Linked DNA regions of Homo sapiens. The protein of the gene in region 2 binds, or shares a complex with, the protein of the main gene of each other region. Each region holds a gene or a part of one and is shown on either strand. Other genes may lie near its edges.

Region 1 (3,748 bases), on a different chromosome or scaffold from region 2:
AGGTGATCTGCCCGCCTTGGCCTCCCAAAGTGCTGGGATTACAGGTGTGAGCCACCATGCCCGGCCTGGACTAGTCACATTTCAAGTGCTCCACAGCCACATGTGGCTGGTGGTTCTTGTACTGAACAACGCAGTTCTACAGGGGACTAGCTCTTCAAATGTAAGCTAAAAGAAAGTAATTAGTTCCTGGCCGGGTTTGGGAGGCCGAGGCGGGCGGATCACGAGGTCAGGAAATCGAGACCATCCTGGCCAACACGGTGAAATCCCGCCTCTACTAAAAATACAAAAAAAAAAAAAAATTAGCCGTATGGTGGCGGGCGCCTGTAGTCCCAGCTACTCGGGAGGCTGAGGCAGGAGAATGGCGGGAACCCGGGAGGCGGAGCTTGCAGTGAGCAGAGATCGAGCCACTGCACTCCAGCCTGGGCGACAGAGCGAAACTCCGTCTCAAAACAAAACAAAAAACACCAATTAGTTCCTGAGCTCATTCCCTCATTCCTCAATTATGCCCACACTGCCATGGGTGTAACATACACCTATCCCAAGTATGTTCAGCTTATGCTACAAAACCAATTTCTCAAAATTCTTATTTTTGAAAGAATTTGTAAGGCACAGAGGAAAAACCTGGGAATAATTGGTTTTGTAAAGCTTTCAAATACTCCACTGCCAAGAAGAAGACTGCAGAAAGAAATGTCATCCTTTAGGGGAGAAGAAACTTAAGAATCCCTGCTAAGAAAACTACTCCAGTTTGTGTGTATGTGTGTGCGTCCGAAAGGGGGGAAGGTGGCTGGCAAGGGATTTCTATTCTCAGGAAAGAACCAGTGTATCTTTATATGATCTGAGGCCCACAGGCCATCTGCTCCAGACTGAATTCAATTAAACTTAGGATATCTGAAGTCAAATATCCTAATGGTGTTGATAGGGCTTAAGGAAGTTAAGATTGGATGGGGGAAACAGGGATGGGGCTGGGGGAGAGGGAGAGAAGATGTACCCCAACGATGTAACCAAGCTCAGTTTCGGGGACTGGATCTCTGAGAGGTGTCCACAGTGGAGGACAAGGGGCTGACACGGACGCTAGTGTTCCCTGGGGCAGAGATACACAATTTTTATACGTGGCTCAAAAGAAAGGGTGGCTGTGACAGGCAAAAGACCCAAAGGGCAATACCAGAGCTGATGGGCCGGCCTTCGGGCGGACGTACCGCGGGCCGAAGGGTCCAGGGGTCTCTTGGGGGTCCCGGGGAGGTGGGCGTTGCCTCGAGGGGTGGGAGTCAAGGCCTCAGACGGTGCCCAGGTCGTGGGGCCGGCAATGTGGGGACCCCACGTCCCAGACGGGCGGCTTCCCCTGGCCCCCCCACGGGCAGGCTGGCCGTGGGTCTGGACATTACGCCGCCCTAGAGGGGTCGTGCCAGGCCCTAGACTCACCGCGCGGCTTCGGCCAAGGCCTCAGCTGCCGCCGCCAGCACCGGTACCGCCGCTTCAGGCCCCCTGCCCCACCGCCCGCCTTCCCCGCTGTCCTCTAAGCCGGGAGCGAGGGAAGGAGGGTTCCCAGCCCTGAGGACCAATCGACAGGTATAGGGAGAAGATGGACTGAAAAACAGGCCAATAGTAATGAAGAAGAGAAGCTTCAGGACCCGGCTTCTCCAGGGGGCGGGGACTGTTCAAATAGACAAACCACGCGGCCAGTGGCAGGTGAAAACAGGCTTGGGTCCACTCGGGAGAACCAATCGGTCGTGAGTTCACCTCAGTCACTTCCACTCACACATCCGGTACGGCGCTGCTAGGATTCCCTTCTGCATCCGGGCTGTGAACTCAAGGAGTCCGGTGTCTGGGTATCTCCGGATCGCAGCGAGAGCGGCTAGCAGAGGTTCGCGACCCCTCCCGGTGTAATTCTGAGAGGAGAATGTGAGCGATGCCGGTGCCCAGGAATTACTGCATCAAAAGACGTTTCGGGCTAGCGCTCTTTATGGATCCTGTGATATCTCTTTTGTTACAATTAATAAGCATTTGAAAATGTTTTTAATTAGATTCTCTAACTTTCCCAAAATTATCCAACTCAGGATCACTCCAGAGAAACCATAGCCAAGTTTTAACCAAAAGAGCTAGTCATAAATAAAAATTTTCAAAGCAACATTATTTTTTAAAAATCCTTTCAAAAAATCAATAGCTGGCCCGGCGCGGTGGCTCACGCCCATAATTCCAGCACTTTGGGAGACCGAGGCAGGCGGATCACCGTAGGTCAGGAGTCGAGACCAGCCTGGTCAACATGGTGAAATTCCCCCACCCGCACCCCCCGTCTCTACTGAAAATACAAAAATTAGCTGGGCATGGTGGCTCACGCCTGTAATCCCAGATACTCGGGAGGCTGAGGCACGAGTATCGCCTGAACCCGGGAGGTGAAGGTTGCATGCACCGAGATCGTGCCACTGCACTCTAGCCTGGGCAACAGAGCAAGCTCCGTCTCAATACATACATACACACACACACACACACACACACACACACACACACACACAACCAAAGAAAATAAATAACTGCTGGTCACGGTGGCCCACGCACTTTGGGAGGCCAAAGCAGGAGGATCGCTTGAGGCCAGGAGTTCCAGACCAGCCTGGGCAACATAGCGAGACGATGTCTCTACAGATTAAAAAAAAAAAAATCAACAGCAAAAGTGGATTTGACTACATTTTTTTTTAATCACAGTGCTATTTGTCATAGTAAACACTGAAAATTCCTAAATATTTCAAAGTAGGAGTCCAATAAAATATGATGCATTCGTTTGGGCGCGGTGGCTCACACCTGTAATCCCAGCACTTTGGGAGGCCGAGGCGGGCGGATCATGAGGTCAGGAGTTTGAGACCAGCTTGACCAACATAGTGAAACCCCGTCTTTACTAAAAATACAAAAAAAAAAAAAAAAAGGTAGGCGTGGTGGCAGGTGCCTGTAATGCCAGCTACTCAGGAGGCTGAGATAGGAAAATCCCTTGAAGCCAGCAGGCGGAGGTTGCAGTGAGCCGAGATCGCGCCACTGCGCTCCAGCTGGGGTGACAGTGCGAGACTCCATCTCAAAAAAAAAAAAAAAAAAAAAAAAAGATGCATTCATAATAAGAAAAATACATAGCCATTAATAATTATAATTTAGAGCCTAGCATGGTGGCTCATCCCTGGAATCCCAGCACTTTGGGAGGCCGAGGCAGGATTGCTTGAGGCCAGGAGTTCCAGACCAGCCTGAGCAACATAGTGAGACCCTTGTCTCTACAAAAGAAATTTAAAAATTAGCTGTGTGTGGTAGCACATGCCTGTAGTCCCAGCTACTTGGAAGGCTGAGGCACGAGAATCACTTGAGTCTATGACTTCAAGGTTGCAGTCATCTGTGATCTCCACTGCACTGCAGCCTGGGCAGCAGAGAAAGATCCTGTCTCAAATAATAATAATAACAATAAATAGTGGTAATTAGATGAATATTTGCTAAGAAGGAAAAGGTTCACAACTAGTTTAAAAATTACAAGTTGTGCAACAATGTAAGTATAATACAACCATTTACAAAAATATTTATGCATTTCTTATATGTCTCTGTTTACATGGGGGAAATGTGCACAACTAAGATGTAATTTGGGAAAGACACACTTTTTTTCTTTATACATTATCAATTACTTATGTAATAAAAACAAGTGAAGGTAGAAGAAATGAGTTTTCAGAAGGTCTAAACTGCCAAATTAAAGATAGTTGGGCTGGGTGCGGTGGCTCACACCTGT
Region 2 (3,748 bases):
TCACAATGAGTCACTAAATTTAAAATATGTCAGATACTTAGCAAAGGGTAGACAGATCAAGGTATTATGAATGCAAATGTTCTATCATATCCATAAGCTTTTGGCTCAGGTTTCAACTAGTACTATATACTAATGACCCCCATATCTGCCATTTTCCTCACAAATCTGAGCTCCAGATCCACATTTTCAAGCCATCACGTGGTTACTGCACAGACAATGCCAGTTCAACATATTGAAAATTCATTAGCCTAATCTTGAATCACTTTTTATAAATGTGATCTCTTAATAGTGATCCATTATATATTGTCATTAAATTAGAAACCTTATGAGCCAAGTTGGACCTCTTATTTACTGTATCCAATCAGCCCACAAATTCTGTCCATCTTATTTTGAAAATACCCAGAAAATGCGTCCTCATCTAATCAACCTAACTACCAGTGAAGTTCAGGCACTCATCAATTCTTGTTTCTAAACTTGTGTCAATATTTCTAGACTTTACCTTCAATGATCAAAATTCCTCCTCTTCACTGCAACCTGTCAGATTACTAAAGCACAACTCTGATCACTCTTTAAAAGCTGTTAAGGATTCCCCACTATATATACAATTGAAATCCCTTAGGATGATATAATATGGCTTACGAGGCCTTTTACAATCTAGCTTTAATTTACCATTCCAGCCTCATCTTGCCACTCCACACTTACCTTAGTTCCAACTACATTGGAATATGACTTTCTTCATAAGTCTATAATGTTCCAATGATCTATACAGCTTTATTCTGCTCCTTCTTCCGTGGATACCCTTCTTCTAATTTATTTGCCTACTTACTCCTCAAGACCATTTCAAGTATCACATCTACGGCTCCTATTCAACATTTCTTTTGATAATCCCTAAGGCAGAATCATTAATCTCTCCTCTGTGTTCCCTTATACCTTGCATGTAACTTTGTTATAGCTCTTATATTTTATGCTATTTTCAAGCACTGCACCAATATTCTAAGCAATTTTCTAATACTATGATTTGTATAATAAATTTTATTATGATGATTTAAATATCTTCTAGGAAACAAACCTATCACATCTTGTCTCAGTTCTACAATTCATCAAATACTAAAAGACTTCATGCCTTAAGTTGTATGCTTGGAAGTTTTAGTCCATTTAAGGAGTATCTCTTATGAAATATGGTTCAATATAGACACTATAAAAGAATGTGTAACTATGTTAACAAAAAAGAGAAAACAGGATAACTGATCTGAAATGATGAAAAATCTAAAAATCATTTATATCGGTAAAGATCATTTTGACCATGGGTTTCCAAGATGCTTCGATGACTTATAATACTTCAAACAAAATAATGAAGCCACAGCAATCACCAGCTAAAGAAAAGCTAGAAAAGTTGTTTCATATCTTCAAACTACTCCCTTCTTAGCAGGTTTCCCTATGACAGCAAGAAGTTCATTCTCAGATTTAGGTAAAGTAGTATCCTAAAGTAAAGTTTAACTAAATGATTATATCTCCTTGGGATTTCAATCTCCCTTCATTTAAAAAAATTATTTTGGTTTTAGCTTAAAGGGCTCATGCAAAGTTGTAGGCCATATTAAGGGACCGAAGAATGAAAGAAATGATAAACAGGGCCAAAAATTAGATTATAAAATCAAATGAGTTGAGAGTCAAATTTCAATAGAACGAATACAGTCAACAGTTCAGAATGAAAGAAATAACTGTAGTTTAAAAAAATGTATAACTATAAATACTAGCAATTATGCAGAATTTAGGATTCAACTTGATATTGATGTTTAAATATTTAACCTTATTAATTTCAAAACACTGATATAAAAAAACCATCCTCTAAATTCACAAATCAATTTCAGAAGATAAAAACACACAAATTCAACTTTATTCAAATAAGAAGTTACCCTGTGCCACTTTTCCAATTGTTTTGCTACATAACCTCTTTCATTCAGATAGGAAAATCCTTTTGGAATGGAGAGAAATCTGCAAATTAAAACAAGCAATAGTTTAACATTGAGTCTGGCAAAAACGTATCTTAAGAAGCTAAAATAACTAAAATTTAAAAAAGTATAAGGAGCTAAAAGACTTTAGGAATAGTTCGTTCCTAAAACTAAAAGGTCAACTATAATTTATTATAACTTCAATTACAAATAAATTTTCACAATCTTTGCAACAACACGCGAACCCAATCACAATAAAGAAAATGTCAGCCAGGCACGGGGGCTCACGCCTGTAATTCCAGCACTGTGGGAGGCCAAGGTGAGTGGATCACCTGGTCAAGAGTTCAAGACCAGCCTGGCCAACATGGTGAAACTCCAACTCTACTAAAAATACAAAAAATTAGCTGGGCGTGGTGGTGTGCGCCTTTAGTCCCAGCTACTTGGGAGGCTGAGGCAGGAGAATCACTTGAACTTGGGAGGCAGTGGTTGCATCGAGCCAACATTGGACCATTGCACTCTGGCCTGGATGACAAAGCGAGGCCGTCTCAATAAAAAAAAGGAAAATGTCATGAAAAGTATGAACAGACCAAAAAAATTAAAAAAAAAGAAAAACCCAAAATAATGAAAAGACAATGTTTCAATATTAAAAGGTAAACTCTTCAGCGTACTTCCCATTTGGATTTGAATCTATCTTTAATATACACTGCCAAAGAACACAACAAAAAAACATAACAGAAAATTTACTTAAAATTTACCTCAGCAGGAGAAGCAAACCCTTGTCTCCAAGGTGGGATAACGCTGGTTTCATCTGAATGAGAGCATGAAGATTGGCCTAAAAGAGATTATCATTATTTTTTTATAATTGCACAAAAATAGCAAAATTTTTAGTTCCAAAATGCCTATTATATACTTTTACATAATTGTCAAATGAGTATTTCAAAAAAATTTAAGTATTAAATTATAAAAAATGAACCTTTACCTTGTCTTCACATGCTTCATCGAGGATATCAAGAGCTTCAGAGGAAATCGTTTTGTTTTTATCATGTAGCTGGGTCACTAACAACTCAATTCCCCAATTATTAAAGAATTCAACATTAGCTCTCAATAATACCCTTAAATGTTTTGTTGCATAGAGTCTGCAGGCCTATAAGGATAAATGAATACATTAAAAAAAAAAAAAACTTCAGCATAAATAGCCTATTTGATTTTATTTTGGGATAGTCCTGCTACTTGAAAAGGGAAGAATGCCTGGAATTGGTGGTCTAGCCCTTGATATGAATACTTTTTTGGTTCTTGTGAAATAGAATACTTCCCTTTCTATCTAGCAGCTTCTTCCCCCGATACAAAAATCTGAGTACTATATGCAGTTCCTTGGAGAAACTAAAATTTTAAAGTAAACTCAATTTCCATATCATATTCTTAGAACTTAATTTTACTTAGCCCAAAATTCATAAAGTAGTGAATTAATTGGTTATAAATATAGTTTTACTGGCTATGTTATACTCACATCAGTAGCTGCAGTTAAAATTTTGGAAAGGATGACTCTAGCCAATCCATCTCTGCTATAGTCCAAGCTAGAAACAGTAAGTTTTAGCAAGTGATCTTGGTTTTTCAAGGAGCAAAGATTAAGGAGACTTAAAAGAAAAAAAAAATAAGAATGGTTAAAAGAAATTACTATATTGATACATTAATTAAACAAATATTTTTTCCAGCTTTACTGAAGTATAAATGACAAATAAAAATTGTATTATTCAAAGTGTATAACTTGATTTGATATACACATACATTGTGAAGATTAC

What was found. The genes of interacting proteins can lie anywhere in the genome.
Region 1: the proteins of RICTOR (region 2) and MTOR are in contact, whole or in part, in a cryo-EM structure (PDB 6ZWM), measured with the Homo sapiens proteins. Residues at the interface, in NP_689969.2 of Homo sapiens: Leu204, Arg205, Gly206, Asn209, Arg245, Asp247, Val248, Glu249, Glu251, Arg252, Leu254, Thr258, Asp259, Phe260, His261, Tyr262, Arg263, His264, Ser265, Pro266, Asn306, Gly308, Ser311, Gly314, Val315, Cys317, Ile318, Pro319, Glu345, Ile347; in NP_001373429.1 of Homo sapiens: Arg1028, Asp1032, Lys1068, Leu1069, Asp1108, Asp1109, Tyr1110, Asp1150, Lys1187, Asn1196, Val1200, Gln1207, Asp1210, Val1211, Cys1214, Arg1215, Lys1218, Gly1219, Tyr1220, Thr1221, Leu1222, Ala1223, Glu1226, Glu1227, Asp1228, Leu1230, Ile1231, His1234, Arg1235, Arg1238.

What each region holds. Positions count from the first base shown.
Region 1 is NC_000001.11:11,261,026-11,264,773, forward strand, and holds the start of MTOR (serine/threonine-protein kinase mTOR), read right to left. Parts: upstream 1,527-3,748; 5' UTR 1,420-1,526; intron 1-1,419. UniProt on the Homo sapiens protein: Serine/threonine protein kinase which is a central regulator of cellular metabolism, growth and survival in response to hormones, growth factors, nutrients, energy and stress signals.
Region 2 is NC_000005.10:38,955,739-38,959,486, forward strand, and holds part of RICTOR (rapamycin-insensitive companion of mTOR), read right to left. Parts: intron 3,584-3,748; coding exon 3,457-3,583; intron 3,094-3,456; coding exon 2,929-3,093; intron 2,782-2,928; coding exon 2,705-2,781; intron 1,993-2,704; coding exon 1,914-1,992; intron 1-1,913. UniProt on the Homo sapiens protein: Component of the mechanistic target of rapamycin complex 2 (mTORC2), which transduces signals from growth factors to pathways involved in proliferation, cytoskeletal organization, lipogenesis and anabolic output.